Regions from separate parts of the Homo sapiens genome. Here region 2 is linked to region 1. Evidence: fine-mapped expression QTL. A gene starts in region 1. The other region holds a variant in brackets. All regions are shown on one strand. Distances are from middle to middle.

Region 1 (5,391 bases):
TATTAGAAGACAGAAATTTGGTTCTGGTTCTTTCAAAGTTGTGTTTCTTGTTTGCTATGTCATATTGCCTGCCTCCTGTTGGCCTATAGCTTATTAAACTCCCACTGCCAATTCTGGAGTTTATGCTGATATTCAGACATTTAGTCTTCTACACTCCTGCAATGAAATAGACAGAAAGCTAAGATGCCAGATTGTATTAGGATGCACAGAGAGATTCTGAACAAAATTCTTATGTTCTGCCACACTGACATTCATAGCAGTCATCATTTTACCTTAATGTAGTCCATGATTCCCTTCTTATTTGTACCAGATAGTGTGAGGGGCATTTTGCATATACTGTTTCCTATAATTCCTACAATAGTCTGGAAAGCTATTATTCATTCCATTTACGGACAAGGAAGTTAAGACACAAAAATGCCAACCAGCAGCTAGAGAGTAAAGCCAGGATTTGCAGGCTGGTATATCTCTCTCCAAAGTTAGAGCTCTGTCTATGAGGACTTCTGCCACTCACAATGGAAGCCGTTGTTTATTGCCATTTTGCTAGACAGTTTCACATACATTATGCAATTTAACACTCACAAAGGTCCTGCATATAGATGGTATCAACCCATTCTAAATAGGAGAAAAATTATGCTCAAGGGATTTAAGTAATCTGCTCAAATTAACTAGCAGAGTCAGAATTCCATTCTAAGTCCATGCCCTATTCACTATTCCATGAAGCACTATGCCAGAAGAAAAGGAGGAAAAAGAGGGAAAGGAAGGAAAAGGAAGGAAAGAATGTTCCTATGTGTGTTCCTTGTATAGTTCACTAGAATAACCTTCACTAAGGTTTTGTCTGTTAAATATTAGGTAAGAAAACATATGCAAATGAAATACAGTCCTAATAATAATAGCCGATGTTTCTTCTTGCTTCCATTGCAAGAGGCACTATTTTAAACATTTTACATGCACAGCATTAACTCATATATGTTTCACAAAAACCCTAAAAGATGATAATTAATATTATTCCTATTTTACAGACATGGAAACTTCTGAGATTTGAACCTTGGCACTCCTAGAGAGCCTATGCACTTAAAGCACTCTGCTGTACTGTGTAAAAAGATTTCAAATGTGCTTTCTCCAAGTGCTAGAAGCAATGACTTGGAAAACCTCTATTTAAAGTAGTGTTCCCCCTTAAATGGGTACCATTTGGTTATAAGGTATGAACAAGAAACACTAAATATTTTCGTCCTTCGTGCAATTGGTAAAAAGAATAAGGGAGATCTGGGCCGGGCGCGGTGGCTCACGCCTGTAATCCCAGCACTTTGGGAGGCCGAGGCAGGCGGATCAACAGGTCAGGAAATTGAGACCATCTTGGATAACACGGTGAAACCCCGTCTCTACTAAAACTATAGAAAAAAAAAAAAAAAACACTAGCCAGGCGTGGTCCTGTAGTCCCAGCTACTTGGGAGACTGAGTCAAGAGAATGGCGTGAACCCGGGAGGCGGAGCTTGCAGTGAGCCGAGATGGGGCCACTGCACTCCAGCCTGGGCGACAGAGGGAGACTCCGTCTCCAAAAATAAAAAGAATAAGGGAGATCTGTTTTCCCCAAAATGGAATGATATTCACAATGTTAAACGAATACAACCAAACTGCACAATAATGTATACAATGTGATACTTTTAAATTAAAATGCATAAATGTTTTTTATGCATTATAAGCATTAACACCCCTTCTCCTAACACTAGGTGCTTCTGAGGGAGAAGGAAAGGGACCAAGAGTAGGACATTGTCAAACATGGTTTTAGTCTCATTTTTTACAAAGAACATGTATTAATATGTTGTTTGTCTAATTGAAAATGTTTATTTCTTCTCTTTTTTTCATTCTGATAAATGTCTGTCAATGTTTTATCACATTAAGTCATTTGGGGAAACATATAGTTTTATATTAATTTATTTGCCTGTACTCTCAGAAGTGGGTATTTAAAAAAACTATTATGTATTAGTAAATTCACTATGCTTCTGTAAGATACCTGCTGTTCAACATGAATTTATGGAATATTTCTTGAGTTATATTTTTATTATGTATTTAGATTTTAAGATCTGTTTGTTTTTATCTAGAGCTTTTATGTGACAGTTTCTTTAAAATACTTATATACCTACCATAATCTTCTTTAAATTCTTAATTCTAGTACATTCCTAAGGTATTTCTCATTCTAATCTTTGTAACCAGTTTCTCCTCCTTTAACAAAATTAGTCCATACTAAAAAAATATTGCTTTCTTGTTGGGACTATCCTGTCTCTGGCTTTCTTCAAGGCCTTCTATGGGTTGAAACTTCTCTGTTCAGACTTGTCAAACTAGTTTCATTTCAACTACTTGTAATTTGTTTCCTTATTTCTTTGAGCCGTAGACTTCTAATACATCTAGAGATGTCATATAGTTGATTAGAAAGTTGAGTTCAGTGGGTGCAGACCTGCAAGATCATATTCTTCCTCCTGTACATGATGTATCGGTAAGTTCAGTTCTGTTTTATAGATGGCTTGTTTGATGTACTGTCTGTCAGTGGCCGGATTCCTGATGTGTAAGAGGACTGCTAGTGAGGTGTCTTTGGTGGATTCAATCTGCACTGGATTTTTTTAAATTTCTGGAATTATCATAGCATCCTGGATTAATTAATTTCTGTGTTTGAAATCAAAGTTTTTGTATAAAAATTGTTAGCATTATTTCATGTGGCCAAGTTCAATAGTTAAGATTTTAGAAAAGGTTAATGAAAAACTATATTACATTGTGTCTTAATTGGTTTTGATTTTTTTGTGTGTGTGGAAGGAGGGTGTTTATATGTTTTAAAACAAGCCTTCTTTCAGCAATATTGACAAAATTTAGCTTCTATAGCGTTTTCTCTTTCGCTGTGTTTACTTGTCCCTTATGGTGGGTCCTTGTGGGACTAATGCAGATTGAGAGGTAAATAGCTGCAGAGACACCTGCCTCCATTGTAGAAGACCCAGGGCTTCCATGTGGGAGAATGAGAAAACAAGCTCAATACTGGGAAAACATGCCTATTCTCTACAATTCTTCCTATTACGTTTTGAAGAAAAAATACATGAATTATTTGGGTATTGTTTTTCAAAATGGGGTATGCCATGTGCAAAGAATATGAAAAAATAAGATTCCTTGGCATAACTTTATATACAGTTAAAATAGTGATTTTAAACAGCCATGATGATAATAATATTTCACCATTGTTTAGACTTGTACTATTTTTGAAACATCTTTATGTATGTTATTTCCTTTAATAGCCAAGACAGCCTTGTGGCTAAGTAGAACAAGTATCACAAGTATCGTTAACTCCCATTTTAAAGCAAGGAATTTGAGGAAAACAGAAGTTAGGGGACGTCTCCAGGTCTAGAGGGCTGTCAGAAGCCAGAATCATGGCTATAATTCCTTGCAGTCCTCAACTCCTTGGAGTCGAGTCTTCCTTATCAGCTACTGCAGCCTGTCTGGGTGGCAAGGATTCCATCCAGTGAATTTCAGAGATGATAATTTGATACGAGATTGGCCACTAAGTTAGTGAACTTCACTAGGTTTCCTTCCCCACTCACAAAATGCATGTTTGCATCAGTCCTTCAGTAATCACATAGTAATTGACAAAAAGTCTCTGAGACCCTCAGAAAGGGTCTTCAATGCTTCAAACATAACCAGTACTCCATAAATATTTGTTGAACAAATGAATGGGCAAGCAGATGTAAATATCTAGCATTAATGTTTGACTGTTAAAAAATTATTTTAAAAATTAATAATTTACTATTAAATTATTAAAGTATATTGAATGTGAAAATGCATATCCATGTTTATAGAATCATGATATTGTAAAACAGGATTTCCAGTTTTTCATATTTCATATTCTCCAAATCACTCTTTTAAAATATCAAGCTCATAATTATGGGCACCAAAAGTGTCCTTTTCTATGAACATTAATATATTTATAGGAGTGTTTGCAGCTTAGGGATGTAAATTACAAGGGTAGAATCAGTGGTCAATGCCATTGTTCCAGACATCAGTGACACCTGCTGATAAAGGAAACAGGCTGGGCGTGGTGGCTCATGCCTGTAATCCCAGCACTTTCGGAGGCCGAGGCAGGCAAATCACTTGAGGCTAGGAGTTAGAGACCAGCCTGGCCAAGATAGTGAAACCCCATCTCTACTAAAAATACAACAATTAGCCGGGCATGGTGGCGCATGCACCTGTAGGCCCAGCTACTTGGGAGGGTGAGGCAAGAAAATCACTTCAACTTGGGAGTCGGAGGTTGCAGTGAGCCAAATCATGCCACTACACTTCAGCCTGGGCAACAGAACAAGACTCTGTCTCAAAAAAAAAAAAAAAAAAAAAAAAAAAAAAAAAAAAAAAAAAAAAAGGAAAAGAAAAGGAAAGGAAAGAAAAGAAAAGAAAGGAAAAAGAAAGGAAATGGTGGGAAACATTGAATGGTTATGGTTTCTTTAAGCCAAATTCATGCAATATTAATTTAGGATTTGGAAGATTTGCAGGAGATGTCAGGTCACACCAACAAGTAGGCTTAAGGATTGAGGCAAAGCAGATGGTTAATAATTACTACAATACCCTATGTCTCACCCACAGTCATTCTACAATATGTTCTACAGTCATGCTAGCCATTCTTACTTCTCCATTAACAAGAAACATAATATGGAAGCCTTGTCAAATATATTCGATTTGTATCCTTGCTCTTTCTGCTATCATGAACCTTGGATCTCTTCTCTATGGGTTCTGTTACCCTCTTCTGTGTATTGCAGGGATTCTTTCTGTTTTGGTGTGAATCTGTTTGAATTTTCCTTTAAGAATAGCCATACACCTACTTTTTCCTACACTTTTGTTAATTGCATGATTCACTCACTTAAGTACCTCAATTATCTTTGTTACAAAAGATAAAATACCAAATGACTTCTTCAGGTGAGATTCTTATCCTGTTCCCAGAAGTCTGGCATCTCTTTTTCCCATAGCTCTTTATTTTCAGCATTGTTTAATAAATGCAAAAAATCAGAATTCTCCTCTTCCTCATCACCTTTAGACAAAAAGATAGTACTGGGCAGGTCCTTTGTATGCTTTCATGTTTTACATTTTAATTTCACTTCAGTTGATTGTTTTAATCAACTTTTAATTTGCCATGAGCAATTCCTAATATATTCTAAAATTATACCTTCAGAATTAAAACAAAAATAGCAAACTCACCATGTTAGTTACTAATTACTAAACTTGTTATAAATTATCAATTAAAAATTACTTTTTGGTTTAGTTTTCAGCAAACTCATAGTGCTTACTATAAATAAGCATTCAAACTATAATATACATATTACATTATGTTGGTGCATTTAATTATCTCAGCAATCCTATGACTTAGGT
Region 2 (5,391 bases), 26 kb after region 1:
CTTAAGAACAGGAAAAAGACAAGAATGTTCACTCTCACTACTCCTATTCAACATAGTACTAGAAGTTCTAGAAAGAGCAATCGAGCAGGAGAAAGAAGGAAAATGCATCCAAATACGAAAAGAGGAAGTCAAATTATCTCTCTTTACTGACAATATGATTATATGCCTAGAAAACCCTAAAGACTTTACAAAAAGTTTCCAAAACTGATAAACAACTTCAGTAAAGTTTCAGGATACAAAATCAATGTACAAAATTCAGTAGCATTTCTAAACAATAATGTCCAAGCTGAGAACCAAATCAAGAACACAATCCCATTTTCAATAGCGACACACACACACAAATGAAATACCTAGGAATACATCTAACCAAGGAGGTAAAAGATCTCTATAAGGAGAATAAAAAAACACTATTGAAAGAAATCGGAGATGACACAAATGAATGCAAAAACATTCCATGCTCATGGATTGGAAGAATCAATATTGTTAAAATGTCCCTACTGCCCAGAGCAATCTACAGATTCAATGCTATTCCTATCAAACTACCAACATAATTTTCCACACAAAGTTAGAAAAAGCTTTTGTAAATTTCATATGGTACAAAAAAAAAAAGCCCCAATAGCCAAAGGACTCCTAATAAAAAAGAACAGAGCCAGAGGCCTCACATTATCTGACTTCAAACTATACTTTAAGGCTACAGTAATCAAAACAGAATGGCATTGGTACAAAAACAGACATATAAACCAATAGAACAGAATAGAGAACCCAGAAATAAAGCCACACATCTACAGCCATCAGATATTCAATAAAATTAACAAAAATAAGCAATGGGGAGAGAACTTTCTATTCAATAAATGGTGCTGGAATAGCTAGCTAGTCAGAAGCAGAAAAATGAAATTGGACTCCTATCACTAAATACAAAAACTAACTCAAGATGCAGTAAAGAATTAAATGTAAGACCACAAACAATTAATACAAGAACCCTAGAAGAAAACCTAGGAAATACTGTTGTAGACATCAGTCTTGGCACAGAATTTAGGACTAAGTCCTCAAAAGCAACTGCAACAAAAACAAAAATTGATAAGTTGGACCTAATTAAACTAAAGAACTTCTGCACAATAAAAGAAACTATCAACAGAGTAAACAAACAACCTACAGACTGGGAGAAAATATTTGCAAACTATGCATCTGAAAAGGTCTAATGTCCAGAATCTGTAAAGAACTTAAACAACTCAACAAGCAAAAGAAACCAAGTAACGCCATTAAAAAGTAGGCAAAGAACATGAACAGATGCTTCACAAAAGAAGACATACAACGCAGTCAAGAAACATATGAACAAATGCTCCACATCACTAATTATCCAAGTAATGCAAATCAAAACTACAGTGAGATAATATCTCATACCAGTTACAATGGCTATTATTAAAGATTAAAAAAATAACATGCTGATGAGACTGCGGAGGAAAGAGAATGCTTAAATACTGTTGGAAACGTAAATGGGTTCAGCCACTGTGGAAAGCAGTTTGGAGACTTCTCAAAGTACTTAAAATGGAACTACTATTCAACCTAGCAATCCTCTTACTGGGTGTATACCCAAAGGAGTATAAACTTTTTTCCCAGAAAGACAGCTGCACTCTCACATTAATTACCACAGTATTCACAATAGCAAAGATGTGGAATCAACCTAGATATCCATCAATGGTGGATTGGACAAAGAAACTGTGAGATATATATGTATATATATCTATATATACCATGGAATACTATGTAGCCATAAAAAAGGATGAAATCATGTCCTTTGCAGCAACATGGATGTAACACCACAAGGAAGGCACTTTTATCTCCTCTTTACAGGTAAGAGAACCAAGCTTCTGAAATTAAGGTCCATAGCTGGAAAATGATGGAGGGGAGATTTGAAGTCATCTAGGCAACTCCACACATGTGCTCTTTCCACTAAATTGTTCTACTGTCAGGAAGGGACTCAGCTAAGACAGAAGATAAAATTATTAAAATCTAAATCAATTCTTCTCTCATTTCATTTTTTAAATCCATGAAGATTATAAATCCTCTATGCTGTGCTAGCTAACTTTTTCTTGACAGATACATTAGGTATACTTATTAGAGAAAAATATTCTCTTTCTCATTTCCCTGTATCAGTTTTTGGTGAGGAAGGCAAAGGTAGGAGGAACTGTAATAGAGAAAGATGAAGGAAGCTGATGGATATATTGACATGTGTATGTACATCTAGTGTGAACAATCTATAGTTGGAAGAAAGGTGTGGATGGGTATGCTTTTTGAGGGAAGTTTTTGAGAAAAGAAGTAATATGAACTATTTCTAAATTTCCTGATAAAGTTGTAAATACAGCATAGTCTTCACAGGAGAATCTATTTAGTTTATCATCATCATTCAGCAAATACAGCATGATGTTAGGCACTA[C/T]AAAAGGCTAAGAAAAATGATTCTCTCTCTCTCATAAACTAATCCAATTTAGAGATTTAGAAGACAACAAATCTGGAGAGGACATGAACCTTCTAAATAATGACCTTCCCTTGCTTTGGGTATCCTGGTTTTAAATATTTTTAGTACAGCTTTAAATAGATCCAAATGAGATATTTTCCTCTTTTACAAAAGCAATTCAAAGATCTAGGTTTTTGTTGTACACTGAGAATTAATACTTTTTTCTTTAAAATCCTTAATTGCAAATCTTTAAATTCTATAAATATTTTGCCTTGTGATCTCAGAAATATAAGCCAATTTGGGATATGGATATCTAATATATTGCTACTTGTTACACGTGAGTAGTGACAGATGTCTGTCCATTTCTTTCTGACATTCCACAAAGAAACACTGAAGAAGGACCAGTGCAATCAAAGAAATGACTGATGGCATCACAAAATATCACATCCCATTTGATGATCTGATTACCTTTTTGTTTAGGGTGATCAGAAAGTCACAGTTTCATGGCACCCTCCACACCCACACACCTTGTATGACACTGGATCCAACTGCTTTCTCCAATAGACACAGCACTTAAAGATGTGGCAGTTAGGCTTGACCCCAAGAAGGCCAAAAAGCCTTCTGTGAGCATCACTCAGTGCTCAGGTTGACTAAGCTCTATCCAGGCTTGAGAGAATGGTTCATAGCTGACTTCTTGGATCCAAAAAAAAAAAAAACACCTAGAGTTTTATACAGATATGATACGAACTTAAAAGGACTGCACTAAAAACTACCAAGATTATGATTCTTATTTTTGGAGAGTAAAGAAAATAGGCTGCCTTTGGAGAGGGGTGCAACAGTTTCTGATCCTCTTACAAACTGCTTGCTGCCCATCAGTGGGTAGGAGGTCTTAGTGAGAACCTACCTGCATGCTCATCCTGAGGTAGGCACTGTGAAGGCGTTAACAGGCTCTGAAGCTACATGGCCCTGGTTTCAGTGAACTCTGTGGTGTCAACTTGGGCAAGTCACTTCCTCTTCTATGAAACGTGAATAATCATAGTACTCACCTTAGAGGGCTGATTTGAAAGCAAATGAGCTCAAACACAATGACATCTGTGCTTGGTGCATATATGGCAGACAACAGTGATTCCCACTATTATAATTATTACAGTCTTACCAAGGAGGAGCTTTCCACAAATAATCAATTACCTAAAATGTCCAAAAACAGGAAAAAAAAATCTCTTCCGATAATTCATGTGTAATTTTCTTTTTTCTCTAGGAGCATTGATCTCAACCTGATGTAAAGCAAGCACTTTAAAAAGTCTTATAAAATTTTCCTGGTAAATGCAAAACTTTCTGATAAATAAATTCTCACCTTTTTATCAATTTGTTAATTCAACAAAAATATACTACATACCAACAGCATGCAAAGCACTATGTTAGATTTTATAGACTATGAAAAGATAAATTGCCATCTCTATGCATAAAGGGTTTGCCGTTTAATAAAAGAGACTATATATTTGCATAAATATATAGTGAATATATTGCATAAATATATAATATATGTTTACATTAAAGAATAAAAGGTATAAGAGGGATAAGAAAAATTGAGACAGAGGGAAGACAGGTCAGTTTGAGATTAACGAATATCCCCAAAGAAGGTATTATCTGAGATTGGCCTTGAAGGATAGTTGTGATTCAGGAACACAGAACTTGCAGAATGAGAAGGTTGTTACAGACCAAAGGAACAGCCTGAGAGGCGTGAGTATGCAGGAAAATGAGGGCCATGCCTGAAAGTACTGGTGGTGTTGAAGATGGAGCCAGGCAAGTTGGTCACAGAGGGAGAGGACCTTGAATGTCTAACATTGTGGACAGAGGCTCAAAGGCTCAAATTCCCTATTTTTACCTTGAGTTCAATCCTTGTGGCAATGAAACCTCAGTGAAGCTTTATTTAAGGCTAAAAGTGTCTTTTAAAAATCCCTCTTATATAATATCCTTTGCATGTTACTCTTGTTGTAATTAGGAGAAAGCAATAGGATCTAAAGTTTTTTTTCACAGCATGGTTTTGGTTTCTTTAATTCTAAGGAGCTCACCTGGTGTTACGTTGGAAAAAACAGCTTTTATATCTCATTTATATTCCATATGCCAGTCTGCAGTGACATATCTATCTGAGGTTTACAGTGTTAGCCACAAAACACTCCCTAAGTGAATACATTGACTGCTGTAAGGGGAGCCAGTCAGGAAGCACCTGCAGAGAAAAGCAGGCAACATGTATAAACAGAGTTAATTCAGGAATGAAAGCTGAATGGCTGGGCGAGTCTGTTTGTTTGAGTTGACAGCCTCTCCCTCACTCTTTCATTAAATATCCAACTAACCTTCAATTGCCCTCTTGGAACTTAATCTCAGTGTAATTTCCAGCATGTCAAAATTATCAAGCAGAAAGAGATACTACCCTGAAAGAGGGTCTTTTGTTCAATGCTAGGAGACAAACTCCAACTACAAAATTCTAGAAATGCCCTAAAGAGAGAGATAGGATAGATTTACAAATTGCTAATGCTATTAGGTTGTATAGATAACAATAGATTTATAACAACCTGGCACACAACTTTAAATATATAAGTTTCTCTGAAACTTCTGGGAACTTGGAATGCCAGAACGTTGGCAAAAAGAATGCTTCTAATAATGAAAGCCATCATCTGCCATGGAAACAATTTCAGGGTCTTTAGAAAGCTAGTTTATACATAAGCTCCATTCTACAATAAAACTTATGTTCATGTTTTTTCTGATTTTCCTCCTGCTGTAAATTCATTTTATCAGAATTCTTTTTACCAGTCCCTCTGCCCCATTTCTCAAAGCGTTGTCCTCAGACTACCTGTATCACCTAAAGATTCTAAGGCCTCCTCCGATGTAGTAAATGAGACTTTTCTAGAGAGAGAGTCCTAGAATTTTATAAAGAAGGA

Direction of the effects. Alleles are on the strand shown, and positions count from the first base shown. SD is a standard deviation of normalised expression in the study named.
As copies of C replace T in region 2, the expression in testis of the gene that starts at base 2,381 in region 1 goes down (small effect, 0.37 SD a copy in GTEx).

The links. PIP is the estimated chance that this variant, and not a neighbour inherited with it, causes the effect. A credible set is the group of variants that fine-mapping cannot tell apart.
Region 2: its variant is the best candidate, but not a certain one, in a credible set for the expression of TMPRSS11A in testis (GTEx, PIP 0.60).

Annotation. Positions count from the first base shown.
Region 1 is chr4:67,960,483-67,965,873 of GRCh38, reverse strand. It overlaps TMPRSS11A (transmembrane serine protease 11A), which reads left to right and starts at 2,381. Exons shown (of 10, transcript NM_001114387.2): 1 at 2,381-2,491. The coding sequence starts at 2,481.
Region 2 is chr4:67,934,112-67,939,502 of GRCh38, reverse strand. The region is part of intron 3 of TMPRSS11A (transmembrane serine protease 11A); the gene reads left to right. Among named protein-coding and RNA genes, the nearest start is that of TMPRSS11A, 27 kb to the left of the region's middle. The variant C/T (reference allele first, on the strand shown) is at 2,435.